3 separate regions of the Homo sapiens genome follow, and all the other regions are linked to region 2. Evidence: fine-mapped expression QTL. A gene starts in region 2. Each other region holds a variant in brackets. All regions are shown on one strand. Distances are between the middles of the regions. Region 1 overlaps TBCD (tubulin folding cofactor D). Region 2 holds the start of FN3KRP (fructosamine 3 kinase related protein). Region 3 overlaps TBCD (tubulin folding cofactor D).

Evidence for each region. PIP is the estimated chance that this variant, and not a neighbour inherited with it, causes the effect.
Region 1: its variant is fine-mapped to the expression of FN3KRP in monocytes after interferon gamma (Fairfax 2014, PIP 0.95).
Region 3: its variant is fine-mapped to the expression of FN3KRP in monocytes (Fairfax 2014, PIP 0.95). The same link has a PIP of 0.9 or more in B cells and monocytes after LPS.

What each region holds. Positions count from the first base shown.
Region 1 is chr17:82,882,058-82,892,509 of GRCh38, forward strand. TBCD (tubulin folding cofactor D) reads left to right here. Exons shown (of 39, transcript NM_005993.5): 15 at 2,088-2,145; 16 at 7,611-7,640. Among named protein-coding and RNA genes, the nearest start is that of ZNF750, 47 kb to the left of the region's middle. RefSeq lists enhancers at 628-1,425, 3,024-3,822 and a silencer at 2,926-2,975. The variant C/G (reference allele first, on the strand shown) is at 5,894.
Region 2 is chr17:82,711,172-82,721,623 of GRCh38, forward strand. FN3KRP (fructosamine 3 kinase related protein) reads left to right here and starts at 5,535. Exons shown (of 6, transcript NM_024619.4): 1 at 5,535-5,725; 2 at 7,735-7,886; 3 at 9,101-9,192. The coding sequence starts at 5,585. It overlaps LOC101929552 (a long non-coding RNA gene), which reads right to left and starts at 5,082. Exons shown (of 2, transcript NR_136400.1): 1 at 4,396-5,082; 2 at 2,737-2,945. RefSeq lists an enhancer at 2,086-2,585 and silencers at 5,352-5,591, 5,612-5,691, 5,772-5,861.
Region 3 is chr17:82,824,259-82,834,710 of GRCh38, forward strand. All of the region lies in intron 13 of TBCD (tubulin folding cofactor D), which reads left to right. It overlaps ZNF750 (zinc finger protein 750), which reads right to left. Exons shown (of 3, transcript NM_024702.3): 2 at 6,761-8,378; 3 at 5,176-6,619. The coding sequence starts at 8,196. The coding sequence ends at 5,884. Among named protein-coding and RNA genes, the nearest start is that of ZNF750, 11 kb to the right of the region's middle. RefSeq lists an enhancer at 4,495-5,341. The variant TTTTG/T (reference allele first, on the strand shown) is at 5,737.

The sequences.
Region 1 (10,452 bases), 170 kb after region 2:
GCGTCCCAAATCCCCATCAGCAGAGCACTTGGTCACAAGGCCCGAGTCACATGCCCCAGCTTCTCCGAGGAAGTGCAGAGTCCAGCCGCAGGGAGGACTTTCTCAACCGGCCCTGGGGCCAGCTGTCCTGCTCCTCCTTGTTTGCTGTGGGCTCACCTCTGTGGGCTGCTCACTCAGACCCACTCGCACCCATGGGACCTTCCCACCTGTTTCTCCTGCCTCCTTCAGTCTGTGCCCAGCACCCCGCTGTCAAGCCCATTCCCCCCCAGCCCCTGACGTTGGACATGCTGGAGGAGACTGTGGCCCTGTGGCGTGTTCTGGGCCATCTCCAGGGCCTGGAGCGGGCACCTGTGCCCAGCACTGGAGGCTGGGGGACAAGTGCTCTCTCTGATAAATGCCCCCGAGTTTCAGTTCTGTGGCTGTAGTTTGTAGGTCTCCTAGCTCAGCATCCCCGAGCCCATGCCCTGGGGACTCATGGGGCCGAGGAGAGAGGAGCGCAGAGAACATGAGGATACGTGAGCCCCTTGCCTGAGAGGTGTGCTGTGAACCTGGAGAGCAAGGCCAGTGGGTCTGGGGTGACAGACAGTGCGAGATGCAGGAAAACAGGCTCGAGATGCTGTGAATCTGGAGAACAAGTGGGCCTGGGTCTGGGGCAACAGACAGCGTGAGACACAGGAGAACAGGCGGGATGCTGTGAAACCGGAGAGCAAGGCCAGTGGGTCTGGGTCTGGGTCTGGGGCGACAGACAGTGCGAGACACAGGAGAACAGACGGGATGTCATGTGCATTGTGGCTGGCAGGGCCGGCGCCTCACACACACGCCCCGGAAGTCAGGATGTGGTGCTGACGGTGTCCGCGCTGCCAGGCTGGAGCGGGTGACGGTGCCTGCGCTGCCAGGCTGGAGCGGGTGACGGTGCCCGCCCTACCGGGCTGGAGCGGAGCTTGCTCTCTCTGCAGTGGGACCTGCTCACTTTTCCTTAGCTGGATGTATCTTTCACATTTAGCTTAACAGCAGAGCTGGTGAGAGGACGCACACCTGGCGTCACCATTGTCCCCCGTGCATGTCCCCGGCGTCCTTCATGTTGACGCGGGCCCCGCCCCACGGCTCAGGTCTGTCAACTTCCCTGGAACAAGGCAGAGCACTTGGCCCCTGGAAGACCTGGAAACCAGGAACCTCGGAGGCGCTGGCGGCCTTGGAGGCCGCTTATCTCCGCGTGTCTGAAATTCTGTTTTCCACCTTTTCCCTTTAGGCTGGTAGGAGGCGCAATCTCTCAAGCCTTCCTTAGAAAGGATGATTGTCCTCCACCCTGCCCCAAACCCCCTGTGTTCTGTGCAACGCCTGATGAGAGCGTTCTGGGTTATTCACAGTAACTGAGCTGGGTGATCTCACAAGAGGACATAATGAAGCCCAAGGAGCCTGGTGGGGGCCGGGAGAGGCCTTGCTCTGAGTGTGGCTCGCATGGGGGCAGCGCCTTGGCGTCTGTGTGTGGTGCGGTGGTTTTCCTGCCACTCTGTGGAAGGGGCCTCTGCCAGACGCCTTGTCTTCAGGGCCTCAGGTCCCTCTGGGCACGGTGGGTGTTCATGTGTTTCTGCAGGGTTAGGCTCTGTGCATGGCGTGGTCTGCAGGACCTGGACAGCCCCTGCCCCGGGGCATTTGTGTCGGCCACCTTGGTTTGCCCCCCTGTCCAAACGCTGCCAGTTCTCGTCCTCCAGGGCACTCCGTTTCTGTCTTTTCATTCACTGGACCTCCCCACCTCCTGCGCCGCCCCACCACAGCAGGCCAGGTGCGTTCTGCCCCCAGGCCCTGTCCTCGTGGCTCTTTGATCCTGTGCCCTCGGTGTGCACCGTCTCGTGGCTCTCGTTAGAACCAGGGTCGGCCACCCCCAGCTCCCACATGGCGTCTGGTGTCTTGGGGGTCACATGTGTCTGTCTGCAGTCCCTGGGTGCCTCAAGCTGTGTGTTGCCTGTGGGGCATGTCTGAACCTCAAGTGGGCCTGAGTCGTGAGAGAAAGGCTTTCTCATCGATACTGTGTGGTCTGTACTGTTTTGCAGAATTTCTTTTTAATTAATCCTTTCTCTTTTTCACAGTGCACTGGTGATTGCTGCGGTGTTTGACCGAGACATAAACTGCAGAAGAGCAGCCTCTGTAAGTTTTCTCATTTTGATATTTCCTTTCCTGAAGGTGGGGGGTGGGCCTGGTCTCCCTGATGCTCCTCTGTGCACTGCTGCCTGGCCAGCTCACCCATCCACAGCAGGAGCCGCGAGGGAGCTGCTGAGAGTGCCAGCTGCGGGCAGGCCACTGGTTCTTACTGTCTCTGGGCGTCTTCAGCGTGTGAAGGGCGGTCAGGGTTAAGCATCCCCAGAGCTGCAGCCATCACTGCTGGGGGTTGATGGGTGATGGAGGCGAGTGGGAGGTGCCCGATGACAGGTCTTGGTGCAGGCAGCTGCACGCTGAAGACGCAGAAGAGAGTGGGTTCTGCGAGGGTGGCCAGAATGTGGCGGCGGGACGGGTCACTCACCGGGTGGCTTTGAGCCTCGGGAGGGGCTGTTGCGAGCAGTGGTCAGCTCTGCTTCACCCGCCACACTCGCCTGGGCCTTGCTGGATGTGGGAGCTGCCTGCAGGACCGGGTGCGTCTTGAACACAGATGGCTGGTTTCCTCTAGAGAGAGCCCTGTGACGTTTGGGGTGAATTCTGGGTGTGAGGAGCTGTAGCAACTGCTGCTGCGCTGAGCAGACTACTTCATTTGGCTCAGAGCTGGGCTGGAGTGAGGCCTGTGTCTCTTGGGACCACAGAGAGCGGACAGTTGAGACGGTGGACCAGTCTCAAGATAAGAGTCTTTATTTCAGATACAGATAAGACGCTGAACACGTTTTAAGAGGGTAAGAACAGAGAGGCAGCCCTTTGAGAAAGATGGAGGGGTGAGGTTGGCTTTTGGTGATGGGGTGGGCCCCACAGTTCCTCATGGGCTCGAGCTGCTGGAACTCTGTGTGCAGGCTCAGCATAGCTGGCTTAGTGGGAACCTGTTGAGGGAGCCGTTCACACTCCCTGATACTGTCAGACTTGGGGGCCAGTGGACCAGGTGGAAGGGGTGCTGGGACTGGTGAGGGTTTCCTGTCAGCCCTGCAGTGTGTGGCCCCTGGTGAGTGGGACCAGGCGGAAGGGGTGCTGGGACCGGTGATGGTTTCCTGTCAGCCCTGCAGTGTGTGGCCCCTGGTGAGTGGGGCCGTGCAGGTGCAGTGTTGGTTCTCTCTCTCTCTCAAATGCAGGAGCTCAGATGATACCCTGAAGTCTTTCTAGCTCAAAATGTCTGTCATCTTCTATAGCTTCTGGTGGTCTGCCTGCTCTCTGTATCCTGAAGTAGTTAGAAGTCTTTCTCTGCCTCAGGTCCTTTAAAACTAGAGAGAATTCACCAGGAGAGCTCAGAAGCTCTTCTCTGTCCCTGAAGCTGCTCTTATTTTGTCTTCAGCATCAGTAAAAACCTCATAATTTTTTGGGGAAATCATCACATTTTTGCCCTGCTATTTACCCAAAGGCAGTAAATGTAAGACTTTGAAATATAATACAATTTTATGTTAAATCTGTACTTAAATTAAGCTTTTAGATTTTCTTTACTGCAACCTAAGACATTTCATGGGAAGCAGTAATAAAATTAAAGTACTTAGGCTTCTATGAACCCTGAATATGAAGTGAAATAATATAAATCATTTTTCACATTAAAATCCCTTTAAATTGGCAATAAATCTTTTCTGATAAATACCACCGAGTGCACCTAGCTTACCCTGTAGCTTGCAAAATTAAAACAGCCAAAGGTAAAAGACACCTTTTTGAAGCTTAGTTGGAAATGTGAGGATTGAGGGCCTCATAATTGGGAATCATTTTTTGGAGCTGCTGCTTTCAGATAACAATGTCTCGGTCTTTCTGGCTCAGCTTGGCTTCCTGTTTGACGCTGTGTCACTGGGTGAGGTCACCCCTGTGAGGCCCTGAGGCCTCTTCAGCACCGGCCAGGAGGCAGCAGCAAAAGGCGTTGAAGTCCTGTCCCTCCTTGGGGCTGGACACGGTCCCTTGCCCCTGAACTCTAGACGCCCTGCATTGCCCTGGTGCTCCCATGTCAAGACTGGCCGCGGTCGTCCATCCCATGGTTTGTGACCCTCCCAGCAACGCTGTGAGGAAGGTGCTGCAGCTGGTTCTCAGCATTGGCAGGAGCATGGCGACTCAGGCAGTCAGTGTGTGAGTGAGTTTGTGAAAACAGTTCCAGCTGTGTTCGTTGCTGAATGCTGGTTTTTCTGCATATTGGAAGGAATCTAGCAGACCCCCAAACGTGCTGACATTGCAAGAAGACATGTCTCCCGGCGGGGAAGGAATGGGCAGTAGAGATGGGGTGTGGTCGTGGCTTCTTGTTCATCATGAGGAAGGGAGATGGGGCCCCGTTCACTCACAGTTAAAGTAAAGGCACTTAAAGCCTACATTTAACTGAGAAGATTTTAAATCTTTTTCTTCCAGCATTTCGTTTGATACATAGTGTCTGACCTCTATTTGTGACTTTTTATTTTGGGATAATTGAGATTTATATGCAGTTTTCTCCCCTCCCCTCCCCTCCCCTCCCCTCCCCTCCCCTCCCCTCCCCTCCCCTCCCCTCCCCTCCCACTCTGTCACCCAGGCTGGAGTGCAGTGGTGCGATCTTGGCTTATTGCAACCTCGGCCTCCCGGGTTCAAGCAGTTCTCCTGCCTCAGCCTCCCGAGTAGCTGGGATTACAGGCGTGCACCACCATGCCCGGCTACTTTTTGTATTTTTAGTAGAGACGGGGTTTCACCATGTTGGCCAGGATGGTCTCGAACTCCTGACCTGAAGTGATCTGCCTGCCTCGGCTCCCAAAGTGCTGGGATTACAGACGTGAGCCACTGTGCCTGGCGGAGATTTACATGGAGTTTTAAAGACTAATGCAGGGAGAGCCCATGCGTGTTTCACCATTGCCTCCATGATGAAATCTGGCAAAACCGCAATGGAACATCACAGCCTAGAACATTGAGCCAACCCACCAGTCTTATTCCTTCTTCCTTGGTTTTACCTGTACTCTGTGTGTGTGTGTGTGTGTGTGTGTGTGTGTGTGTGTGCGCGCGCGCGCACGTGCGCTCACGCGTTTACTTCTGTGTGATTGTATCACATACAAATTCACGTATCCACCACCACAATCAGGATACACAGCAGCCCTGTCTTCCCGAGAGGCCTGTGCTACTGCTTTGCCCACAGTCCCTGCTGTTTCCCTCTCCTGACCCTTGGCAGCCACCGGTCGGCTCTCCGTTGCCTATTCTATTCTGTCATCTCGAGAATGCTGTGTAAATGGACTCTGTGGCCTCTAATGCTGTAGCTTTCTTCTCTCGGCACAGCTCTCTGGAGACCCACCCCGAGCGTGGTGGGTGGTGCTGGTTTGCTGCTTCTGTTGCTGAGTGGTGCCGTGGTTTGTGTGACCATTCATGTATTACGACATCAGGATGGTTTCTAGTCTTTAAGCTGCTGTAAACATTCGTGCTCAGGTTTTCGTGTGAGTGTAACTTCCATTTCTCTGGGTTAAATGCCAGGAGTAGTTTCTGGGTCGTGGTAGTTGGACATTTAAACTGCTTTCTAGAGCAGCTGCACCATTCACGTTCGCACCACCACCTGCCCGCAGCCCTGCCTTTCTCTGTCCTCGCTTGTGTCTGACATGGCCACTGTTTTCTGTGTCGGCCTTTTTGACAGGCATGTGGTGATACGTCGTTGTGGTCTTTACCTGCGTTTCTGTCATGCCTGATGGTGTGGAGCATCTTTCACGGGCTTACTTGCCGTCTGTACCTCCTCTTTGGTGAAATGTCTGCTCAGGTCTTTTACTCATTTCTAAGTGGATTGTTTTTTGTAGTT[C/G]TTGAGTTTAGGGCACTCTTTACATATGTAGGATTCTGGTCCTCTGTTGGATTTGCGTTTGGCTTTCTCCCAGTCTGTAGCTCATCTTTCCGTCCTCTTCATAGGGCAAGAGTTTTTAATTTTTTAATTTTGCTGGGGTCTCGATCAGTTTTTTGTTTTTGTGGCTCATGTTTTTAGTGCTTTTTAAGACGTGAAGACTTTCTTAAGGTCTGGGAACTCCACCTCGCCCGGTCCCGGGGATGCTGTCCCGTGTTTTCTGTTCTGCTGGTTGGTCTGCGTGTCTGTTCTGCCAGCGCACACTGTGTGACGGGCTGTGCTGCGATGCTGCTGTGCATAGTCAGCCTTCGCACTGGGCAGGGAGATGCCTCCCAGCGTCTTCTTTCTCAGGACTGTTTTCCCTGTTTTAGGGCTTGTGCTTTTCCACATAAATCTTGAATTTTTAAAACATCTTTTAGATACCACTGGAATGGTACATGTCTTCCTAATAGTGTATGTTAAATTGATGTTACAGTATATCTTTGTTGCATTGCCTTTTGGCGGGTTTTGTTTCTTACTTTCCTAATGAATTTATCACAAAAGTTACAAATTTGCAAAGCAGCAGTCAGGCCTCCTCCCAGCCTGCTGTGAAGCGCCTGTTTCCTCCAATCTCCAGCCCAGCCCAGGGGTCTGCCTTGGAGCCACCCGCACGTCTGGTTTCTGTGTGATTGGCCAGAGGTGGTGGGCGCGTCTGCTCCTTTTCCCTGGGGGGTGGGGGCACAGACCCTGGGTGGCTGTGTTCGGCTCCTTACTTGGTGCCCGTCTGTGTGTGCTCCTCCCAGCAGCCATCGCTCAACCTTGCTCTCAGGAAGCCCCCAGGCGAGTGTTGGCAGGAATCCTGCCAGGCGGGAGGTCGCTCCTCCAGAGCGTGGTCCCTGAAGCCGCCAGCCTCCCTGGCCTCGCCCCTTGCTGGTGGTGTGTGTGGTGTGGCCGTGGGTGCACTTTGCTGGGTCTTCCTGGGACACTGAAGTCTCCTGTGTCTCCAGCCCTGAGAACTCGGAGCCCGGGTGCTTTTGGGAAGGACGGGGCACCAGCTGGTGACACATGGGAAGGGAGGTGTGGTTGTCACCTTGCCCAGGTAACCTGCTCTGCCTGGTCGGTGCGCCTAAGGGGGGCAGGGTGTTTGGGGAGGACATGAGAGGCCTCCTGGAAGCACTTCATCCTGTTGAAGTTCACATTTTGACCTTTTCAGCAGCCCTTGCTCTGGGCCTGTGCCCGGCCCTGGGACTCGGCCTGGAGAGCCTATTGACACCGTGCCATGGGTGCGGGCAGGGCGCCCTCCCTGGAGGGCGGCACGTGGTGCCAGTTGGTGACCATGAGCTGCCTCACTCCTGAGGAAGAGTGTTCGGGCTCTGGGCTTTGATTTAACCTGCCTGTCTGTCTCTCTGAGTTGACAGCCGGGGCCTCCGCGTGGGTGCTGCTGGGAGGCTCAGTGGTAAAGGCCACTTTTCAGGATGTGTCTGATTTTATAAACTTGAATTCTTAAATTGTGGTTTTAAAGAGCACCAGGACGTAAAAACAGAGTGACGCACCTTGAGGCTCTGTTCAGCCAACAATGAGGGCTTTTATTTAAAAAATAAAGCCGTGGGTCATTCACGTTGTGCTGTTTGTTCTGAACTTGCCTCTGGTGTTGGCGGAAGCTGACCTCGCTCACCTGCTGTGTTTGTTCTTTGCTCCGCAGGCCGCCTTCCAGGAGAATGTGGGGAGACAGGTATGGCTGCTTTCAAACACCTTTATTCCAAAAACTTCCTGCGGGTTTATAGGTAGGAATCTTGAGAGCTATAACCCTGGTGTCTTCTCGCACTGTGAGATGTGGTGTGGCTACATCAATGCCAGGGTCATGAGTTCACTATAGGACGCACATGTTAAACAGCGAGTCCTGTTTCACAGGGAACCTGCATGTACAGTAATTTACACACACAGGCCGGAAAGCTGTGCTTTACACGTTGCCAAGAGCCACATAATGTGGCTCTGCAGGGTGGGGCGGGTCCCTGGGACCAGCCTGGCCTTGCGGGGACGCAGACCTGACCCCGCCTCATCCCACACAGAGCAGGAGCTGGCTCTGTTGACGTCAGCTTGTGCCTCATCCAGACCATAGACGGGCCCAGAAGTCAGCTCCCAGAAGCTACGGACCCCATGACCCCACGACCCCACATCATGCTGGGGCTGCTTTTGCTGTGCCCTCTGACCCTGACATCTGGTCACTGGTCAGCTTCGCCTGTGAATGGGGGGCCCCAGGTTACTCATGTTGTGTGTGATGACGTCACATCTTGGGCGTGTGGTTGGGTCTTGCAGGAGAGTGGGACAGAGGCCGGAGAGGGGACCGGGGTCTGGGCTGGACCTGGGCGGGGAGCAAAGTTCCCACGAGAAGTCAGCCGAGAAGGCTCTGGAGTTCCCGGACAGCAAAGCAAATGCAGCCGGGGTCTGGGCTGTGGCCAGGTGGTGTGGGGCGGCATGGGGTGGACGTGGGCCTGCGGACCCTTCTGACCTGTGGGGAGCCCTCCAGGCAAGGTGTCTGACCTGGAGTGGAAGCATTGAGGCCAAATGAGTCCACAGGAAAAGCCGGATGCCAGAGTCAGCTGGAGAGGCGGGCGGACGAGGACTTGCGCCTGTTATTGAAATGGTTCTGGAGGAGCCTGGCGTGAGTGGTGTGGGCGGCTTTCTGTAGACGGAGCCCAGGAAGGGGCGTGACTACTTCTTGCTGGCCCGAGGCAGCCGAGGCCCACCCAGCATCCTTGGGGTGCCGTGGGGCCTGCATGTGTTCAGAGCCCTGAGCCCTGGTCGGAGCCAGTTCACTAGGAAGAGACACCAGCCTTGCAAGGGGAGCCTGGGTGTGCAGACAGCAAGAGCCGCCCAGGCCAAGGAGAATGTGAACGAGGTTTGGTCTTTTGAGTGGAGAGTGTGGCTGCTGTGAGGAAGAAGGAGCTTGTTGGAAACCACTTAGCTGAGCCTAGGGACTTGCCAGCTTCCTGGAAAGTGAGAGCCCAGGAGAAGAAGTCTCCCTGTCCCTGGGCTTCCAGCCCCTCCAGAGCCCCCACTGGAGAGGGGCGTGCTGAGGCCAGAGCCCGGGGTGACGACCGTGCTGGGTGGGCCCTGGGGCGCACTCCGCCATCACTCTGTGTTCCGGGTTCCCAGATGCTGCTTCCTGGGAGGAGCAGCCCAGTCGCATAGGGAGCCACGGGGCCCTGCAGCTGAGCTGACCAGCCTCCCTGTGTGTGTGGCTGGATTTGAGCCACGTTACCTTTATCGGGGCAGCTCAGGTTGGGGATTGATTGACAGGGAAAGGAAAGGCCTTTACACTTGGTCTAAATTTAGGCAAGCAGCCAGAAAATGGGATATTCCCGTGGGTGCGGGAGTCTTGCACCTCAGTCCTGAGCCTGAGCAGTGTGAGTCTCAGAGCATCCTGCACAGTGACCAGCATGCGGACGGCAGCGGGAGCCTCGTGGAAGAAGCGGCACAGATTTTGAAGAGACACAGACTTTGAAAGAAATGCAAGACGCGCAGGTGCGGAGCGTCTCCCAGCCCCGCACGGCCATGTCCTGCTGAGGTTGGATAGAAACATTTGAGAAGAAGGTCGAGAACTTGGCAAGGCAAAGCAAACGGGAGTGGACGTGTCGCATAGCACACAGGGAAGCAGCCTAAAAACCCTCGGATTTGGAGGAGGCTGTTTCTAATACACAGATTTGGAATGAAGTTGTAAGAAATGCGTTACAGTGGAGGCCGCTGGGTAACAGCAGCAGGGATGGGGGGTGGTTGGGGAGCGGCCTGGGGGACACAGAGGGGGCTGGGGGCAGAGACGAGGGACCAGCTTCTCTGTCCAGGTTCGTCTTGGCTGGAGTTGGAGACTCTGGTCCTGAGTGGTCTCTGCCTTCTCCCTACTGAGCCCAGGGGCTCTTGAGCAGGTTGTGACTAACCCATGGGCAGCTTCCACGTTCAGGGCCTGTCCGACATTCCAGCCCTATGACCCTGCTCCTAGGCGAGTGCTGTCCAGGCCCCCGACACCATCAGGCCCTTGTGGTGGCCTGTCCACACCCAGGCCCCCCACTTCCCCCCTGCACAGGTGAGGAAGTTGAGGCTCAGGGCAGCTGAGCCCGCTTTTGTCTGCTCGGAGCCTGTTGTTCCAGCCCTAGCCTGGCCAGACAGAGCCTTGGCCCCTGTGTTGGTCTTGCTTTGTTCTCACCGTGGGGGGATGCTGGACACAGAGTCCCCTTGTTCTTGTTCTCGGTGAGACCTGGTCCTGGGCCACCCCGGATGTTTCCCTGGGCTCCTGCCTGCTGTGATGTGGGGCATGGAGTTGTACCCCAGTGGGCGACATCCCAGGTTGTGGCACCTGCTGTCTTTCTGCAGAGTGAGCCGCAACAGCTCCACCTGGGTGCAGGTTTCTCCCCTGTTCACGGTTCAGTGAAGGATGCTCATGCTGTCACTGATTGCAGCAGCCTCAGGCAGAAGTTTATGGTATCTCCATCAGCCCAAGCTCCCAGTGTAACCCTTGGGAGAGATTTGCTGGAAGAAAGCCGCATGGT
Region 2 (10,452 bases):
ACCCAAGCCCGCAGAGTTTTGTTTAATTTTTGGTGATTGCAGCACGGTAGCCAAACTCATCCTACTCATTAGCATATCCTGGGCATCTCAGGGAGCCACAAGAGGAAAATGTGCCACAAGTTCCACGACCACCCTGGGCCATCCTGGGCACAGCAGACACTATTTTTTTTTTTTTTTTGAGACAGACTCTCGCTCTGTCACCCAGGCTGGAGTGTAGTGGTGCAATCTCAGCTCACTACAACCTCCACCTTCCGGGTTCAGGTGATTCTCCTGCCTCAGCCTCCTGAGTAGCTGGGACTATAGGTGCCCGCCACCACACCCAGCTACTTTTTATATTTTTAGTAGAGACAGGGTTTCGCCATGTTGGCCAGGCTGGTCTCGAACTCCTGACCTCAGGTGATCTGCCCACCTCGGCCTCCCAAACTGCTGGGATTACAGGCACAAGCCACTGCACCTGGCTGGCAGACACTTTCTGAGTGCACCAGGCTCTGCGGCGGTGTCGTGGGGGCGCCGGGCTCTGGGTGGGGGCACCAGGCTCGGTGGCAATGTCACGGGATCCTTGGGGTGTTGCTTCGCCAGCTGGAAACCTCTGTGGCCAGTCGCACCTTTGCCCAAGTTTTTACTCAGGCCCACTGGGCTCATTCAGTGCACTTGGCCTGACAGGCTGTGCTCAGCTCATGCTACTGGTATGAATCTCACACCTGCCAGGCATGGAGTGGCGAGGGGTGTGTGAGGGAGAAATCGTGAGGTCTGGCCACTGCGCACAGCCAGGCACACCGGCTATGGTAGAGCGGGCCATTTCGGGTGCCACTGGGGGCGCTGGCTCCCTGCGAGGCTGCAGCTGGACCAGGTGCACCATGAGCAGGTTCCATGGCTGGCACGGGGGAATGCAGGGGCACCCAGAAACTTGGAGACGCCGGGAGCCGCAGAGCCTCAGAGACGGTGTCGCAGGCCTGGCTGGGGAGGTCTTAGGTCTGGGCTTCCCGAAGGGACACAGCTCTTCTCTCCCTCTCTCTTCTCTCCTTCTTGTCACTCACAACATTGTTAGCAAGGGACGTGTTTCAGCCCTGTTTGTGTGACAGCTCTTTTAGCCCTGCCATTTGGCAGGTCACGAGTTCTTGTCTTGCATCCAGGAAGAATGAGGTATGGGCACAAGTAGAGGGTGAGCAAGGCCAGCAGGAAATTTACTGAGCAACAGAACAGCTCAGAGGAGACTCGCAGTGGGTAGCTCCTCCCCGCAGGCAGGGCATCCCAGCTAGCGTTCAGCTCTCAGAAGAGAGGAGACCCTGGAATGGGTAGTTCCTCTCTGCAGCTGGCAGTCCCAATGTCTGCTCAGCTCTCAGCAGAGAGGGGAGCCTGGAGCAGGTAGCTCCTCTCTGCAGCTGGTAGTTCCAGCATCTGCTCAGCTCTCAGCGGAGGGGGGACCCTGGAGTGGGTAGCTCCTCTCTGCAGGCAGGTCATCCTGTCATCTCCTCAAATCTGGCTGAGTCTGGGGTTTTCATAGGCTTCAGAGGGGAGGAAGTGCATGCTGACTGGTTCATGGGCGGCCATGGGTGGGCCTGGACAAAGCACTATAAGTTCCCATTCTGGTCCCTCAGCCCAGCTCCCAGGCTTCAGGCCATCCCTGGCTTCAGGGTGGGCCTTCACTGTGGACCTGCCCCTTTCCACCCAAGAGCCTCTCTGCCTCCTGCCGTCATCTATGGCGTCCAGGCTGATTGTGCCAAGGAGCTGCCCTCAGCCCCTTCTCAGCCATGGTTGGGAAGCTGCACCTGCACCCAGGAGGATGGGGTTCCTGCCCACTCCCACCCCCAAGAGCAAAGGAATGCGCAGATCTGGAACCATGGCTGGGCAGCTGCCACTGAACCTGGGGAGCACAAGGCTCTCTCCCTGCTGGCTTGGAAGGTGGGTGGCTTCTGCCTGTTCCTGGCTCCCACCAGCTCCGTGGAGCACGCAGCCCCGGCGCCACCTCCCCACTGCTGCTGGTGTCATGACAGTGACTGCTCCAGACAGGCCGCCGCCATCTGTGCGTGTCACATATCTATGCAGAGACTGCTGCAGACAGGCCGCCGCCATCTGTGGGCGTCGCATGCCCATGCAGAGACTGCTCCAGACAGGCCGCCGCCATCTGTGGGCGTCGCATGCCCACGCAGTGACTGCTCCAGACGGGCCGCCGCCATCTGTGGGCGTCGCGTGCCCACGCAGAGACTGCTCCGGACTGGCCGCCGCCATCTGTGGGCGTCGCATGTCTATACAGAGACTGCTCCAGACTGGCCGCCGCCATCTGTGGGTGTCGCATGTCTATGTAGTGACTGCTCCAGACAGGCTGCTGCCGCCATCTGTGGGTGCCACATGCAGAGTGACCCAGGGGCTTGCCACAAGGGGGACAGTCAGGCAGGGACTCTGTGTGCACATGCATCCAAGCACAAGGCAGGTGTGGGCAGAGAAGCGAGTTGGAGCCATCCTCAGGAGGAGTGAATTACTGGGGATGTTGACCTTGGGACACCAGGAAGAGAATCTCATTTGCAGAGGAGGAAAACGCTGCTGGAACGGAAAGTCTGAGAAAGACAGCAAGAGCAGGACAGAGCAAAGCAGGACGCGGGAGTGAAGGCCTGCAGTGTGGGTGCGTGTGCAAGACCCAGAAACGCGCAGATGTGTGGGGCCAGCAACACCACGGCCACATCCTCAGCCACAGAACAACACACAACATCTCAAGGATGAACTCATCAACGCACCAACGGTTAGTCTCTTATCTAATAAATAAAGCATATCCCGGTTACAAATAATCAACACAGATGTTTCAATGATCTTGAGTAGAAAGTTGAGAGCTTGTCATTTGAGTCAGGAAATGGGACTCCGCGGAAATGATGGCCTTGAGAGAGCCCTCATGTGTTCTTTGTGCAGTCGGCAATTCCATGTAGACAGGAAAAATGGACTGAAAACTTAAACTGATATGATGAAGATAATATCATTCAATTGAAAATGAAAATGGAAAAAGTCATTTATAAACCATTTGAATGGACAAAAAAGAAAATTGGTTAGGAATTAAATTAGCTAGATGAAAGTCACTTTTTTTCTTTTTTGCTTTTTTTTTTGAGATGGAGTCTCACACTCTATTACCCAGGCTGGAGTGCAGTGGTGCGATCTCGGCTCACTGCAACCTCCGCCTCCCGGGTTCAAGCGATTCTCCCGCCTCAGCCTCCTGAGTAGCTGGGATTACAGGCGTGAGCCACAGTGCCTGGCCAAAAGTCACTCTTTTTTTTTTTTTTTTTTTTTTTGAGACGGAGTCTCGCTCTGTTGCCAGGCTGGAGTGCAATGGAGAGCAGTGGTGCGATCTCGGCTCACTGCAAGCTCCGCCTCCCGGGTTCACGCCATTCTCCTGCCTCAGCCTCCCGAGTAGCTGGGACTACAGGCGCCTGCCACCACGTGTGGCTAATTTTTTTGTGTGTGTGTGTTTTTAGTAGAAACAGGATTTCACCGAATAAGCCAAGACGGTCTCGATCTCCTGACCTTGTGACCCACCTGCCTCGGCCTCCCAAAGTGCTGGGATTTCAGGCGTGAGCCACCGCACCCGGCCCAAAAGTCACTCCTAAAAATGCTTTCTCGGCCGGGCACAGTGGCTCATGCCTGTAATCCCAGCACTTTGGGAGGCCAAGGCAGGCAGATCGCCTGAGGTCAGGAGTTTGAGACCAGCCTGGCCAACATGGCAAAACCCCATCTCCACAAAAACACAAAAATTAGCCAGTCATGGTGGTGTGCGCCTGTAATCCCAGCTACTCAGGAGGCTAAGGCAGGAGAATCGCTTGAACCTGGGAGGCAGAGGTTGCAGTGAGCTGAGATTGCACCACTGCACTCCCGCCTGGGCGACAGAGCAAGACTCCATCTCAAAAAAAAAAAAAAAAAAGTTTCTCAACAAAAACTTAACGGTGGCATAGTTCTGATGAAAATCTTCATGTTCATGGCATGGAGTTAAAATGTCCAAACGGTCAAGGCCACAGATTAAAACAGGGACATCCGCAGGCCCTGGCCCGAGGGGAGGAGCATACAGGGAGTGGTTCACCCACTCCACCGCCTTTGGAGCACCTTTTAATTCTCTCACTCTTCTCTAATGTGTTCCTTGATTTATCTATTACCATCTGCGGATTTTCATCTGTTCTTTTTTGCCTTTTTTTTTTTTGAGACGGAGTTTTGCTCTTGTCACCCAGGCTGGAGTGCAATGGCGGGATCTCAGCTCACTGCAACCTCCGCCTCCCGGGTTCAAGCGATTCTCCTGCCTCAGCCTCCCGAGTATCTGGGATTACAAGCGCCCGCCACCACGCCCCGCTAATCTTTTTTGCTTTTTAAAATTATGAAATGCGGTATACACACAGAAAAGTGCGTGAACACACACATATGTACCATTTAATAGATAGTTATAAAATGATCCGCCCGCCTCAGCCTCCCAAAGTGCTGGGATTACAGGCGTGAGCCACCGCTTCCGGCCTCAGGAGAGGATTCGTGTTTGCTTCTCCCAACGTCCAGGGAAGCGACATTTCCTATTTGCTTTAGACTAAAATCTATACTTGAATTTTTTGTTTACTGTAGGTAATATTAACTAGGGTTGCAGTCCGTGGAGGGCCGACTATGCGAACGGTTTCTATGAACCATCCTTTGCTGAAGGCTGAAACCTCTTCGTCCCCTGGGAGAGTTCCTATTCAGGCCTTCTTGTAGTTAGTTCATCCTTGTGTTGACAGCTGTATTAGGGTTCTCCAGAGAGACGGATCCAGTAGGATATAGACGTAGATCCAGGACAGGAGATGGACTGGGGGAGCTGGCGTTTGCAATTACGGAGGCCGAGAAGTCTGTGAGCCGGAGACCCCGGGACTCGGGTAGCCGGGCTCAGCCCAGGTCGGAAGGCCTCAGAAGCGGGGAAGCGGATGGTGTGGCCCTCAGCACGACCCACCCCAAATCATGCCTTGCCAGGTTTCTGGGAATTCCTGGTCCAGCCCAGCTGGCACCTGACACTGGCCGTAACGGCAGGGCCACTGTTAGCTGTTAGCCTCAGGGCCCCAGGTTTAGGGGCGGTGTCTCCGTTGCACGTGCACCCCGAGCGCGCCCGCCACTCCCCACATCAGGAGCTCTGTTCCTCGGGTTCAGCAAACGCCCGGGCGAAAGCAATCTTAACATTCTGGGCTCCCGGCACCCAGACCTTGGGCTGATGCCCCTTGCTAGTGGGTCAGCTCTTTAGAAAATATATTCTAACTATTTCCATCAGCATTTCCACTTATTTTGTGCAGGAGAGTTGAACCCAAACCGTCTGGGTCGGGGTCGGTCAGGCCCCGCCCCCTGACGTCATCTCACCCCCACCCAATCCCCCGCGCCTACCTGCCTCCCGGCCCCTCCCCTTCCCGCCCCTCAATCCCAGCGCTCATCTCTGCGGCCACGCCCGCCCCTTCCCGCCACCCAATCCTAGCGCTTGTCTCTGCGGCCGGGCCCCGCCCCCACCCGCCCCCCGCCCAATCCTCGCGCGGACTCATGTTTGCCCGCTCGGCCGCCGTCTCTCGAGTCTCCGCCAGATCCGGGGCGGGTCCGCGGCCGCGGCGGGAACATGGAGGAGCTCCTGAGGCGCGAGCTGGGCTGCAGCTCTGTCAGGGCCACGGGCCACTCGGGGGGCGGGTGCATCAGCCAGGGCCGGAGCTACGACACGGATCAAGGACGAGTGTTCGTGAAAGTGAACCCCAAGGCGGAGGTCAGGCAGCGGGTCGGGCGGGCCGGGGGACCGGTTTCTTTCCGGAGAGGGTCGCGGGCCTCGGCGCGGGGCGCGGCCTGGGCTTCTCCCGCCGGAGGCCGTGGGTGGCTCTCCCGGGACTGCCGCCGCCGCCCCTTGCGGGGAACCCTTTGCGCGGGGCGAGCGGTGAACGGGGGCGGCGGAAGCGTCCGGGGCGTCCGGAGGAGTTTGCACCTGCGGGGAACTGTCCGGAGCAGGAACCGCGGCCGCCCCACACCTCCTGTTCTCCGTGAACTTTCTCTCGGGGGCGCTACGTGAAATGGGGCGGGACTGGCTGCTGCAGTCTTGCTCCCGGGGTTCCTGCCCTGCGGTGCTGGTTAAGTGGGGTCGTTCTAGCCGGGGAAGCTGCTTAAGTCCTCAGCTTAAGTGACTCTGGAGGTGTCCATCCCCCGTGAGCCTCGGTCAGTACGTTGTGAAACGGGGCGAAGGTGCTGCCCCCAGGCCAGCTGCTGCGCCTCACCACACCCTGGCATGCTCTGTCCTTCTGTTAGACTCATTCTCGGGCCGGGCGCGGTGGCTCACGCCTGTAATCCCAGCACTTTGGGAGACAGAGGTGGGTGGAGCGCGAAGTCAGGAGTTCGAGACCAGCCTGGCCAACAAGGTGAAACCCCCGTCTCTATTAAAAATACAAAAATTAGCTGGGCGTGGTGGCGGGCGCCTGTAATCCCAGCTACTCGGGAGGCTGAGGCAGAAGAATCGCTTGAACCCAGGAGGCAGAGGTTGCAGTGAGTCGAGATCGCGCCACTGCACTCCAGCCTGCTGGGTGACTGAATGAGACTCCGTCTCAAAAAAAAAAGAGTGTTCCTAGCAGCGGTGACATGGCAGCTGTGGTGGGGCTCTGAGGCTGAGGAGGTGGGGACTCTGAAGAACTGAAAGAAGGATGAAGACAGCTGGAAGTCAGGAGCACGAGGAGAGTGTGTGTGTCTATGTGTATGTTGTGTGTGTGTACGTTGTATGTGTGTATGTTTGTAATGTTTGTATGTTGTGTGTATGTATTGTGTGTCTGTGTGTGTGTAAGGGTGGAGCCCCAGGTGAGGATGGGAGAGTGGGCAGGGCAGTGGTGTGTGTCTCAGGAGAAAAAGAAAGGCCGCTGGCCCTGACCTGTTCTGCGGGGATCACTGCTGTGTATGTTGTGTGTGTGTGTCTGTGTGTTGTGTGTGTATGGTGTGTCTGTAAGTCGTATGTTGTGTGTGTTGTGTGTCTGTATGTGTTGTGTGTGTGTTGTGTGTCTGTATATGTTGTGTGTGTGTGTTATGTGTCTGTGTGTGTAAGGGTGGAGCCCCAGATGAGGATGGGAGAGCAGGCAGGGCAGTGGTGTGTGTAGCAGGAGGAAAGGAAAGGCCGCTGGCTCTGACTTCTACTCTAGGGATCACTGCTGTGTGGTGAGCCAGGGGGACCCAAGGGAGGAGTTGCTGTGGTCCCGGGGAGTTGGATGGAAACGGCATCTCAAGATGAGGTGGTTTCCAGTGCTGGGCAGGAGGTGGCATGGAACTTGGTGGTCTCTTCAGGTGAAAAGTGACCCCAGGTCACTGGCATAGGCAGCCAGGGTGCCGCCTGCACCTGAGAGGTCGGGTGAGTCTGTGTCCTGTAGGTGGAACAGGACTGCAGTTGAGGTGTCGTCTGAGGACACTGACAGGTAACCCATGTTCACAGTCCCACTGTTGCCGGATCTTAGTGGAATATTAGTGCCTTCGATTTTCCTCTCTCCAGAGAACCTCCCAATTCAACCACAGCACACAAGTGTAGTCCAACACTGGAAAGCTCAAGCCCTCTTCTTCCAGTACAGCCTCTGAACCTGTAGCCTACCCTGTTGGCAAGTGTGTTTGAAAACACTGTCCATGTGTATGGAATCCTCAGTCAGGATAGTCTTGGTTTGAAGTTGTAATGCTAGAGGAAAACATATCTACAGAACCTTCCGGAAGTAACCTTGCCTCCCTGTATTTCCACTTCCTCTCGTATTTTTCTGACAGGCCAGAAGAATGTTTGAAGGTGAGATGGCAAGTTTAACTGCCATCCTGAAAACAAACACGGTGAAAGTGCCCAAGCCCATCAAGGTTCTGGATGCCCCAGGCGGCGGGAGCGTGCTGGTGATGGAGCACATGGACATGAGGCATCTGAGCAGGTGCATCTTCACACCACCCCCCACCTGGCTTTATTACCTGAGCAGGTGTGTCTTCACACCTTGTTTTATTATGTGTGTCTTCACACCACCCACTGGCTGGCTTTATTATCTGAGCAGGTGTGTGTTCACACCACCCCCCAGCTGGCTTCATGCCCCGCCCCGGCTGGCTTTGTTATCTGAGCATCTGAGCAGGTGCACCCTCACACCAGCCCCCAGCTGGCTTTCTTTTCCACCAAGTGGTTCTCTGATGACTGAAGCTTGTACTGGGGACATCATTTTGAGGAGTGTAATGCAAAGAACCCGTGACTCCACATACCATGAGTTCTGCAGAATGAACGGCAGGCACTCTCTGCAACCAAGGGCAGAAGCAAGAGGAATCTCCCAAAGTGAGATGCTGACCAAAGGCCTCGCTGCACGCCGGCCGCGGTGGCTCACGCCTGGAATCCCAACACTTCGGGAGGCTGAGGCGGGTGAATCACTTGAGGTCAGGAGTTTGAGACCAGCCTGGCCAATATGGTGAAACCCCATGTCTACCAAAAATCCAAAAATTAGCTGGATGTGGTGGCAGGCGCCTCTAATTCCAGCTACTCGGGAGGCTGAGGCAGGAGAATCACTTGAACGCAGGAGGCAGAGGTTGCAGTGAGCTGAGATCGCACCACTGCACTCTAGCCTGGGCAGTAGAGCGAGACTCAGTCTCAAAAAAGAGGAAAAAAAAACCACTGCAAACTTGGATGAGGCTGGGAAAGATCGTCAAATAATCAACACCTTTATCCCCCTCTTGCTTCACCAGAACCTACTTTCTGTCCTCAAAATGTCCGACCTACTAGCCGGCTGTGGTGGCTCACGCCTCTAATCCCGGCACTTTGGGAGGCCAAGGTGGGCGGATGACTTGAGGTCAGAGTTTGAGACCAGTCTGGCCAACACAGTGAAACCCTGCCTCTACTAAAAATACAAAAAAATTAGCCAGGCATGGTGGCGGGCACCAGTAATCCCAGCTACTCGGGAGGCTGAGGCAGGAGAATCGCTTGAACCTGGGAGGCGGAGCTTGCAGTGAGCCGAGATCGTGCCACTGCCCTCCAGCCTGGGTGACAGAGCGAGACTCCATCTCAAAAAAATAAAAAAGTTTGACCCTCTTTATGTGCCCTGAGACTGAGCAGTGGGTGTGTTGCCATTCTGTGTGTCATCTGTTTAGTTGCTGTCGTTTGATTTGACAGTCATGCTGCAAAGCTTGGAGCCCAGCTGGCCGATTTACACCTTGATAACAAGAAGCTTGGAGAGATGCGCCTGAAGGAGGCGGGCACAGTGGGTATGGCACTGCGCGGGCCACGGGTGCTCCCGCCTAGAGGAGGACGTTCAGCCGGTGTGGGCTCAGAGCGGGGGCCGTGCAGCAGCCGTGGGAGGGTCGGACGTGGGCTGATGGCAGAGCAAGGGAATGTCGGCCTTGAGCCGCATCTCACGGTGCACTGAACACAGTGACTGTGATGCGTCTGTTGTGTCCTAAATGCATTTGAAAGATGAAAACATTTGCTGGACACAAGACACCCCTAGTGTTACAGTTACTTTTACCTCTCGTTCCCCAGAAGAGTGTAAGCAGAGGCTCTCTGGCTGTCTGTAAAAGGCAAGACCTTTAACCCAGGGTCTGTTCCTGTAAAACAGTCATACTTGAGGCTCAGAATTACAGCCATCATGTCTGACCTTTCCAGAGCATAACGCGCTGTCAGGATCGAGGGAATTTTCCGGTATTTTAATCTGCTGACATTTGGAATCCGTGTGCAGCCCACATGGTAAATGTGGGGAGATTTGCTGATGATCGGAACAGATCACCAGGGGCCTGCTGTAGGAGACGGAGACATGCTGTTAGTCTGTTCTGTGAGGGTCCATGACGGATCCACCCAGGCGGCCTGTGTGGTGAGGATCCACTGAGAGGCCTCCCAGGTCGCCTGTCCTGTCTCTTCCAGTCTTAACGGAGTTTAGTCCATTGGGATTTTCCTTGAATTAGGGAGACTGCAGAGGAGTGAGATTCTTTCTTTCTTTCTTTCTTTTTTTTGAGACGGAGTTTCACTCTTGTCCCCCAGGCTGGAGGGCAGTGGTGCAATCTTGGCTCACCGTGACCTCTGCCTCCTGGGTTCAAGCGATTTTCCTGCCTCAGCCTCCTGAGTAGCTGGGATTACAGGTGCATGCCACTGTGCCCACCTAATTTTTGTATTTTTAGTAGAGACGGGGTTTCACCATGTAGGCCAGGCTGGTCTCAATCTCCTGACCTCAGGTGATCCACCCACCTCAGCCTCCCAAAGTGCTGGGATTACAGGCGTGAGCCACTGCACCCTGCCTGAGATTATTTCAAAGCACAATAGTTTATCTGACACACATGGCACCAGGTTTGCCACTGAGAGCCATCCTTTCTGATGGATTGGGGGCAGATTCTTTTTCCTCTTTATTTATTTATTTTTATTTTATTTTTTTGAGAAGGAGTCTTGCTTTGTTCCCCAGGCTGGAGTGCAGTGGCATGATCTCTGCTCACTGCAAGCTCCGCCTCCCGGGTCCACGCCATTCTCCTGCCTCAGCC
Region 3 (10,452 bases), 110 kb after region 2:
GCAAGCTCCGCCTCCCAGGTTCACGCCATTCTCCTGCCTCAGCCTCCTGAGTAGCTGGGACTACAGGCGCCCGCCACCATGCCCGGCTAATTCGTTTTGTATTTTTAGTAGAGATGGAGTTTTATCATGTTAGCCAGGATGGTCTCGATCTCCTGACCTCATGATCCACCCACCTTGGCCTCTCAAAGTGCTGGGATTACAGGTGTGAGCCACCGCGCCCGACCCATATATTTATTTTTTAAAGATAGGATCTCACTGTATTGTCCAGGCTGGAGTGCAGTGGCTATTCACAGGCCCAATCATAGTACACCACAGCTTCCAACTCCTGGGCTTGAGCGACTCTCCCACCTCAGCCTCCTGAGTGGCTGTGATTGCAGGTGTGCACCACCGCCCCTGGCCATATTTTCTTGATCCATTCATTTGTCAGTGGACGCTTGGGTTATTCCCACCTTTTGGGTATTGTGAATAATGCTGCTGTGGACATGGATACAAGAACCTGTTTGACACCCCTTTTTTTAGTTCCTTTGGGTATATACCCTGAAGTGGAATTAGTGGGTCATGTGGTAATTCTATGTTCAGCTTTTTGAGAGCTTATCACTTTTTGTATGTAAAAATTACGAGTGTTTAGTTCTTAAGTCGGATCATGCATAAATGCAGAAACGTAGTTAAAAAATAAGTCTCTTTTTTTTTTCTTTTTGCTATAAAGCTCTAGGAATCGATTTTGCTTTTAGAGATAGACACAAAGGGCTTATCCTGGTTGCAATGGGTGAGCTATTGCAGATGACCTTTGGAGGAATTGTGTCGGAGTGTAGAATTTTCACAGTGTAGCTCGCCATGCATCAGGCACATGTAGCCTGTGCCACAACCATTGTGCTTGGGCGGGGTTCTCCATGCTGCCCTGTTGCAGGAGGATGCTCTGCCCCTGCTTCTCCCTATTTGTCATTTAAGATGATTCCTGGTGCTTTTTGGTGAGCGATCAAATGGTGTTCTCAGAATCTTTGGGCCCTTGACAACGGAGGGCTGTATTCTTGGGGGTGTGATGTGAGAGCTCCTTGTCTGCAGGGTGTGAGGCTTTGGGTCCTGAGTGTGGACCGTGGCATGTGATGTCTTGTCACGGCTCCCTGCACGGCTGTTTAGTTTCTGAAAGCTGGAAGTATAATATTTTTGTTCTTTGCCAAAACATACTGGTGTATATAAACAGAAGTGCCCAGGTGAGCGACTCAGCACTGCGCCTGTGTTTATGGTTCTGCGTCTGACCGTGTGCCTTTTAGGCTGGTGTAGTGGTTGTCTGAGGTGGGTGCCTGACAGGGCTGGGGGACCTGCTGGTGTCCTTGCTGCTGCTTTAGGGACAGCTTGAAGCAGTGTCCTCAGATACCCCTTGGAATTGTGACAAACTCTGTATCCCTCTTACAAGTTTTATAGAACTCTAACCAGTTGCAAATAACTATTTGCCATCCTGAGTATTGTCATTTTAAAATAAAACTATTGCGTCACTCATCTGAATAAATCTGGGAAATTGAGGTAGAATAATCTACCATTCTTCGTTAAAAAATTTACAGGGCTGGGCGCCATGTCTCACATCTGTACTCCCAGCACTTTGGGAGGCTGAGGTGGGAGGATCACTTGAGCCCCGGGAGGTTGAGGCTGCAGTGAGCTGTGATCGCGCCACTGCACTCCGGCCTGGGCCAGTGAGCGAGACCCTGTCTAAAAAACAATTTCATAGGCAAGTTTTTCTCTCACAGAAATTTTATTCTTCCTTTTTCTTCTTAAGCCCATATTTCCATTTACTTTTTTCCCAGAGCATTTTACCCTAATGTAATGTATTTCTGTGCCTAAGAATCTTTATTGATCTATCATTTATCTGCAACGAAAGAAAATAACATAAACATAAACTTCAACTTTTGCATTTTGTATGGCCATAAGATGCTAGTTATTTATTTATTTTTTCCACAGGTGTTCATGACCTTTTTTTTTTATTATTTTTTTAACTATACTTTTAAGTTTTAAGGTGCTAGTTACTTAGAAGTTTTTTTAGATTGGGTTTTAAAAAATTATGAGTACAGAGTTGACCAAAACAACATAAAATAGCATATTATTGAAATTTAGCTCTTAATAAGATAGCTGTTTAGTTTGAGTTATCTTTTGATGAGTCAGGCTTTTTTTGTTTTTATTTTTTGAAATGATTCTTGCTCTGTCACCCAGGCTGGAGTGAAGTGGTATGATCTTGGCTCACTGCAGCCTTGACCTCCTGGGCTCAAGCAATCCTCCTGCCTCAGCCTCTCAAGTTGGTGGGACTACAGGCAAACATCCCATTGCTCAGCTAATTTTTGTATTTTTTGTAGGGATGGGGTCTCCCTGTGTTGCCCAGACTGGTCTTGAACTCCTTGGCTCAAGCAGTCCTCTCACCTCAGCCTCCCAAAGTGCTGGGATTATGGGTGTGTGCCACCATGCCTGGCCGTGAGCCATGCTTTTAACCAGAATAAGGCAAGGTTCTGCAACAGTACAATTTTTGCTTTTTATTTATGTATTTTTTTTGAGAAAAGGTCTCACTCTGTCACCCAGGCTGGAGTGCAGTAGTGTGATCATGGCTCACTACAACCTCTGCCTCCCAGGCTCAGGCCATCCTCCCGCCTCAGCCTCCCAAGTAGCTGGGACCGCAGGTATGTGCCACCACACCTGGCTGACTATTTTTATTAGAGACGGTGTTTTTCCATGTTGCCCAGGCTGGTCTCAAACTCCTGACCTCAAGCAATCCATCCGCTTTGGCCTCTCAATGTGCTGGGATGACAGGTGTGAGCCACTACGCCCGGCCCCTATTTTTACTTTCAGTTTTAAGTGCTAAGAAGTCTTATTCATTCAAGTCTTATTCAAGTAGCTAGGAATGGCAGAAATTTTGCTTTAGCAATGCTGGTGTTTCAACTTTTTCCAAGCTCACGCCTGACCTCTGTGCTCTGTCACTGAGCAGCTTCAGTAGGGTGGCCTCAGTCCTGTGAAGTGATGCGTTGACAGCCACCTGCATGGGGAAGCATTTCCCAGTCTCTGGAGCAGTTCCCATCGTAGTGTCCACTGCATGGTTTCCAGTGTGTTGGGTGAGAGGCTGCCTTTCTTGAAAAGTGAGAGAAAGGGCTGTTGTGAGAGGGGACATGGGGATGGAGAAACCCTTTCTCAAGCAGAGCCTTAGGGGCTGAGGCTCCGGAAGTCTACGCTCCTAAAGCACTCTGAAGCCTGAGGACCCCATGGATGGCCATTGAGTAGCCCCAGGGGTGCTTCGCACATGCCGGTACTTGACCACTGCTTTAAACCCATGTGCACACATGCACGCTCACACACATGCACGATGCAGAAGTGCATACACACGTGTACATGTGCACACTGACACATGCACGTTGACACGTGTACACCCAATCGAATGTGCACAACTACCCCCACAGATAGCACACACCCACACAATCGAATGTGCATACACCCACAGATACACACACGTGCACACCCGTACAATCGAATGCACACATCCGCAGATATGTACACGTGGACACCCACACGATTGAATGTGCCCCCCCACAGATATGCACCTTTGCACACCCACACAATTGAATGCACACACACCCCCCCACAGGCACACGTGCACACCCACACAATCTAATGCACACACACCCCCATAGATATGAGCACGTGGACACCCACACGATTGAATGTGCATACACTCACAGATACGCACACATGCACACCCAATCGAACGCACACACACCTGCAGATATGTACACGTGGACACGCACGATTCAATATGCATACACCCACAGATACGCACATGTGCACATCCACACAATCGAATGCACACCCCCCCGCAGATATGCACACGTGCACACCCACACAGTTGAATGTGCATACACCCACAGACACACATGCACACCCGTACAATCGAATGCACACACCCGCAGATATGCACACGTGGACACCCACACGATTGAATGCGCCCCCCACAGATATGCACATGTGCACACCCACACAATTGAATGCACACACACCCCCCCACAGGCACACGTGCACACCCACACAATCTAATGCACACACACACCCATAGATATGCGCACGTGGACACCCACACGATTGAATGTGCACTCACAGATACATGCACACCCAATCGAATGCACACACACCCGCAGATATGTACACGTGGACACGCACACGATTGAATATGCATACACCCACAGATACACACACGTGCACATCCACACAATCGAATGCACCCCCCCCGCAGATATGCACACGTGCACACCGGCACAATGGAATGTGCCCCCCCCGATTGCACACGTGCACACCCACACAATTGAATGCACACACACCCGCAGGTACGCACACATGCACACCCACACAATCGAATGCGCACACACCTGCAGATATGTACACATGCACACCCACAGAATCGAGTGTGCACACACCCATACATAATGCGCATGCACTCACATGATTGAATGTGCACACACCCAGAGATGCACACACACACATCTAATCAGATGTGCACCCCCACACAGATATGCACATGTGCACACCCACAGGATCGAATGTGCACGCCTAATCAGATGTGTACACCCCTCCCACATATGTACACATGCACACTAACACAAATGTGTACACACCCGCAGGTATGTACACATGCACACCTACACAGTCGAGTGTGCATGCCCCCCACGGATATGCACACGTGCATACCCACACAATCCCATATACCCACCCCCACAATCACGTGTACACACCCCCGCAGATATGCACACACGCACACCCACAGGATCGAATGCGCACACACCCACAGATAGCACACACGCACACCCACACAATTGAATGCGCACCCCCCACAGATATGCACACGTGCACACCCACACAATAGAATGTGCACACACCCGCAGAGATGCACAAGCGCATACCCACACCCGCAGACGTGCACATGCACACATCCACACGATCAAATGTGCACGTGCATCTGCAGACATGCACAAGCAGACACCTACACGCACTCGCAGACATGCACACCCACATGGGCGAATGTGCACACCCCCCCCACACAGATAGCACACGTGTACACCCACACAATTGAATGTGCATACACGCACCCGTTCACAGGTTAATCGCTGCCACAGCTATCAGCTCTTTTTCATTGACTGTTACGGCAAAATATTCTAAAGGATAACATAGATTTATGTTTATTTGCATTTTATGTTTCCTTATGGTTCATATGAGTTTATTGGAAAATTAGCAACATACACATCATTTTGGGGAATGGAAAGTGAGGCAGAGTAAGCCAGAACATTCACTGTAACATTATAAGCAAGTAGAATAAATTGATAATACCTTCACCAGTAATGCACTTTCCCTAGTGGAAATAAATTATTTGTATAAATAGCCTCTTGATGTTTGTGTGTTATTTAGTTATACAAATCACATTTTTCTTTTTTACATATGGCACTTTAATGTTAGTACTGAAAATGTTTTTTCTGACATTTTTTCAGTAATTGTCATTTACATCAAATATGCAGCTAGAGCTAATAGAAAAACAGTTAAAACAATTTGTTGTAATGGTGAGATATTTATAAGGAAACATTTATAAAAGATCTTCTGTAAGACAGCTTAGACTTGAAAATACATATCAGTCTTAGAGTCATTCAGGTGTTTTTACAACCAAAAGTAGAAGCACCTTTTAATATTCATGCTTAATATTTATAAAAACTGAATTGGAGGGTT[TTTTG/T]TTTGTTTGTTTGTTTGTTTTTTTGAGAAGCAGCAGCTGCATTTGTAAAAATGTGAAAGTGCCAGTTCAGAGGTGTTGTAGCTTGCCACCTTGGAAGGCGTGTGTGTGGCCGTAGCTCTGTGAACACACGTGTGAACCCGGCGTTAGGACACCCGGGCCCTCCTTCGTAGTGTGAACACTCTGGCCGTGTCCTGCAGCTTCGCCTTCTTAGCTCCTTGCTGGGATTTTCCAGCATCCCTTAGACTTGTCCTCTTTTGTCCTTTGGGTCTGAGGTCACACTGGGCCTCTTGGCTCTCCATGGAGCTCAGTGTGGGTGTGTCTTGCCGGCAGGCAGGTTCCGGGGCCGCAGCATCCCCATCGCCCACCCGGATGTTCCTGGGGCTGTAGGCCGCCAGCTGGCACAGGGCCACGGCTGCCGTCTGCTTCTGCTCCTCGCTGCTGTCCACCGCGCATGCGTCTGGAGCCTCCTCGCCGGGGCCTGTGGGTGGGGCCCCGTCACCGTCGAGGCTGCCTGGCTTGGTCTCAGGGTGGCTGGGCCCATCCTCAGAACCTTCTGTCCCAGTCTTCTGTGGAACAGCAGCAGCAGGTTCTGCAGCTCGTGGTCGACCGGGGAAGGCAGGCCTCGGAGCCTGGGTGTTACAGGGGTCCTTCACCGAGAGATTGAGTGGAAGGTCCTGCAGCTCTGAGAAGCTGGCGGTTTCCGCCTGGGGGCTGCCTTGGTACGTGGGTTCGTGGGTGGCTGCCAGGTTTATCTCTGATTTCTTGGAGAGGTTGAGGGGGCCCATCCCGGAGCTGTCGTCCGGACTGGAAGGCGCGGCCTCCGAGACGAGAGAGGCGCTTCCGGTCGGAGCAGGAGGGTCTCCGTTCACAACATTGAGGCTAGAAGAAGCCAAGAAAAAGCTTAGTAGGAGCTTGCTTAGAAAAGCAACTGCGTGAAGCAGTGTGAGCAAGTATAAGCCTGGCTCATGGAACCCAACCAGAAACATTCCCTTGGAGGTTTTGAAAATGACATTTTCTTACCTTACTGGAGACTCTGCTGTGGTCTCAGCAGCCTGGGCAGGTAGGCATTCTGTGCTTTTCTTAACAGGCCTGAAGGCTGTGAGGCTTTGCTCTGGCGGGTAGAGTCTTCCCAGTGCGCTGGAGGCTGCCTTGTTGGAGAGGTCGTACAGGCCTTCGCAGGTCTGGCTCGTCTGCATGAAGTCGGTGGGGCTCGGCCTCCCTGGGGAGCCCGTGGCTGCACTCCCTGCGCGGGGGCTCATTTTGGACCCTTCCGTGTCTCTCTGCCCAGCCTTGGAGGAGTCTTTAGCCTCAGGAATTGGACTTTCGAACTCGACGTGTTTTCTGTTGGGGTCCGAAGGGTTTAACCTGGAAGGACTCGAGGCTGGATAGACCAGGGTGGCTTCTTCAAGCAGGTGAGAGCTCTGATCTCGGGTGAGGCCAGTGACAGGTGGGAGTCTGAGACCATAGGAGGAAAATGCAGACTCTGGCCTGTAAAATCCGTAAGGAATCGGCAGGTTAGAGGGATATTGCTGGAAAAACCTGTAGTGATCGTATGTGGCTGGAGATGGAGCCAGGTGCTTAGGGATCGGCCCCGGGTGAGGCAGGAAGTGTCTCGGGTCTTGGGTTCCGTAGACTGACAGCAGGGGTGCGTCACACTCAGGCGAGCTCCCAGCCAGCAGGTAAGGCGAGTAGATGGTGGCCAGCCCGTGCTCTGTGTAAAAGTGAGGCGGGTACTCTGGGATTGTGGGGTGCATGTAAGGGGAAATGGCCCCAAGCCCCTTTGTAGATGAGATTTTATGTGGAAACTCTGGTGGAAGGAAAGGTGAGCCGGCTTTCCAGGGGTAGCCAGGAGTGTGGAAGGCCGACTTGGTGTGGAAAGACACGGCCTTGGCAGTGGGGTTGTGTAAAGCCAGTGTCTCGGGCGCCTCGGCGTTGTCTGGCCCCTTGAGTCTGTGCTCGCCGACTGGAACAAATGCAGAAGGCCGAGCTGCGCCTTCCAGAGCAGGCTGGGCACCGAGGGCGGCTTCCGGAGCTGGGCTCTTGCAGGGTGATGCCCTGTGGAGGGCTGGCTTCTGTCCCAGGCACCTGTGGGTTCCCCGGGCTTGCAGCTCCAGGTTTTCCTTGATGTCTTCCCTGGCAGAGCTGTGCTGAAGCTTCGAGTCGAAGGCAGAGAGTCCATTTGCGACAGACTTGGAAGAGGCTGGCTTCGCCGTGGCATCGGGCTGGTTGGTTTGCTTGGGGTCTAGTGAGTTAGATTTAGGGCACTTGGGAACTCGATCCTGCTCTGATACTAAAGTAATCGAGTTTTTACAAAGACCATACTTCATGTGATTAAAAAGATGTGACTTCTCATTGCAAGTAAAGGGACATTGGAAACATTTATACTTGAAGGGCTTTCCTGGAGGCCTGGGGATGTAATGTGGCTTTTTTGGCTTCCGCTCTTTGAGGAGACTCATTTTCCTCCTTATGCCTTGGACTCTGGCTGTCCAGGTGGCGTGATCACTGTCGACGCCGCGTGCACTTCGTGGTTTCTAAAGAGGCACCTCCCGCTTTGCTTTCTTTCCCGATCACTTCTATCAGAAGCCAGCTCTGCGTGCTGAGGGTCTGGCGAGAGCCTCCGTCATCTGGCGGCTGGGAGCTGTAATAAAGAGCAGTCTTGGTGTCAGGACAGCGAGTGAGGGGTCGGCGAGAAGCCGGCCTCGGCTCGCCACAGTGCCACAGGATCCCTGAAGCAGAACCCCTGAAGGGCTGAAACTGCCTGCTCCTGAGGGGAGCAGCTGCCGGTCACAGAAGCAGCCCTGCCCTACCCTTGGTAACCTGGCTGCTGACTCCCCACCGTGTTTTCTGTTTTCTGAGTCTGATCTGAAAGAGTCACCTCGGGGCCTAGAGGTGGAGTGTGGTGTGTGGTGCGTTGAGTGTCTGTTCTGAGAATGCCTGTAAGCCTTTGAGTTTTGGGAACTTTCATCCTGTGACCTGGACCTTTCCTCGAAAGCGCCCTGCCGGGGGCTGAGGACACCGAGCCCCCTCCCAGGGTCTGGACAGAGTCCTGTCCCAGGGCTGCCCGACTCTGCTTGGGGGTTACACGCTTGAAGCAGTGGGTGTGTGATCGGCCACACTCTCACGTGAAATACGAAGGGGTTTGTGGCTGTTTCCCCTTAACATGTACCCACAGTCACAGAGTGCCCCTCACTTTTACACAGAGCGTGGGCTGGCCACCGTCTACTTGCTCCTACCTGCTGGCTGGGAGCTCTCCCAAGTGCTGTGCGCCCCTGCCGTCGGCCTGTAGAACCCAAGACCATGGATGCTGCTGCCTCCCCTGGGGCCGATCCCTAAGCACTCGTGGCAGTTTCTGCCCACTTTAGCCACGTCGTTGGTGTATTCTAGTGTGCTTGTTTAAAAATGAAGAACATTCGAACACAAGACTCTACCCTACTGCTTCTAAAGTCAGCTTTATCATTAAGTAGCATTTATGTTGTCTCAGATATGAATACAAATGCTATATTTATGTTGACTTAAATGGTTGAAATACTGTTGGTGAATTTGTACATCCTGTGAGTGACAGCAGCATTGTGAGACATGCTTTCACGGTCACCCGGTTCCTGCTGGCCAGGAGGCATGGCCAGCAGCGCCTGCCCGTCCAGATGCACCACCAAATGGAAGAACCAAAGCTTTGCCACACTCCTGCCCGAGAGGAGACCAGAGTGAGTAGTATCCGCTTTAGAGATGGTTGGGTCATGGGAGGAAGCTGTCCTGGCCCTTAACCTTTAGGGAGTGGGTTCAGCCCTCTGGCCACACCCACTCAGGTCCTGGGACCCACCAGAGGCTGTGTGTGTGATGTCAGAGCTGGCCTGCTCTTTTGGATTCTTCCAGAGGGTCTCTGTGTCCCCCTTACCAGCCTCAGGTTTCCTTCAGAGGCTGTGCCGCACGCCCAAGGCTGAGAACAAAGGCTGTTTTTCTTTTTTTGAGACAGAGTTTCTCCCTTGTTGCCCAGTCTGGAGTGCCATGGCGCAATCTCAGCTCACTGCAACCTCCGCCTCCTGGGTTCAAGCGATTCTCCTGCCTCAGCCTCCCGAGTAGCTGGAATTACAGGCGCCCACCACCATGCCCAGCTAATTTTTTTTGTATTTTTAGTAGAGACGGGGTTTTGCCATGTGGGCCAGGCTGGTCTCGAGCTCCTGACCTCAGGTGATCCACCTGCCTTAGCCTCCCAAAGTGCTGGGATTAGAGGCGTGAGCCACCGCACCCGTCCCAGAACAAAGGCTTTGAGAGTCTGGGACTGTCCACCTGGCAGCTGGGCCTGGAGCGACTCAAGCAGCAACTGTGCCTGGGAGACAGGGTGAGTGGGAGATGGGGTGGAGGTGCAATGGATCAAGGCTAAGCACTTTAATTCGTATTAAAAATGTAAAAAAGAAAAGGTCTTTAGGGTCTAAATATTTTCAAACAGCTTAAAAATAAAGTTAAATGACCCAAATGCCTATCAGTGATAGACTGAATAAAGAAAATGCGGCACATATACACCATGGAATACTGTGCAGCCATAAAAAGGAACGCGATCATGTCCTTCGCAGGGAGAAATGGATGGAGCTGGAAGCCAGCATCCTCAGCAAACTAACGCAGGAAGAGAAAACCAAACGTGCATGGTCTCACCCATAAGTGGGAGCTGAACAGTGAAAACACATGGACACAGGGAGGGGAACATCACACACCAGGGC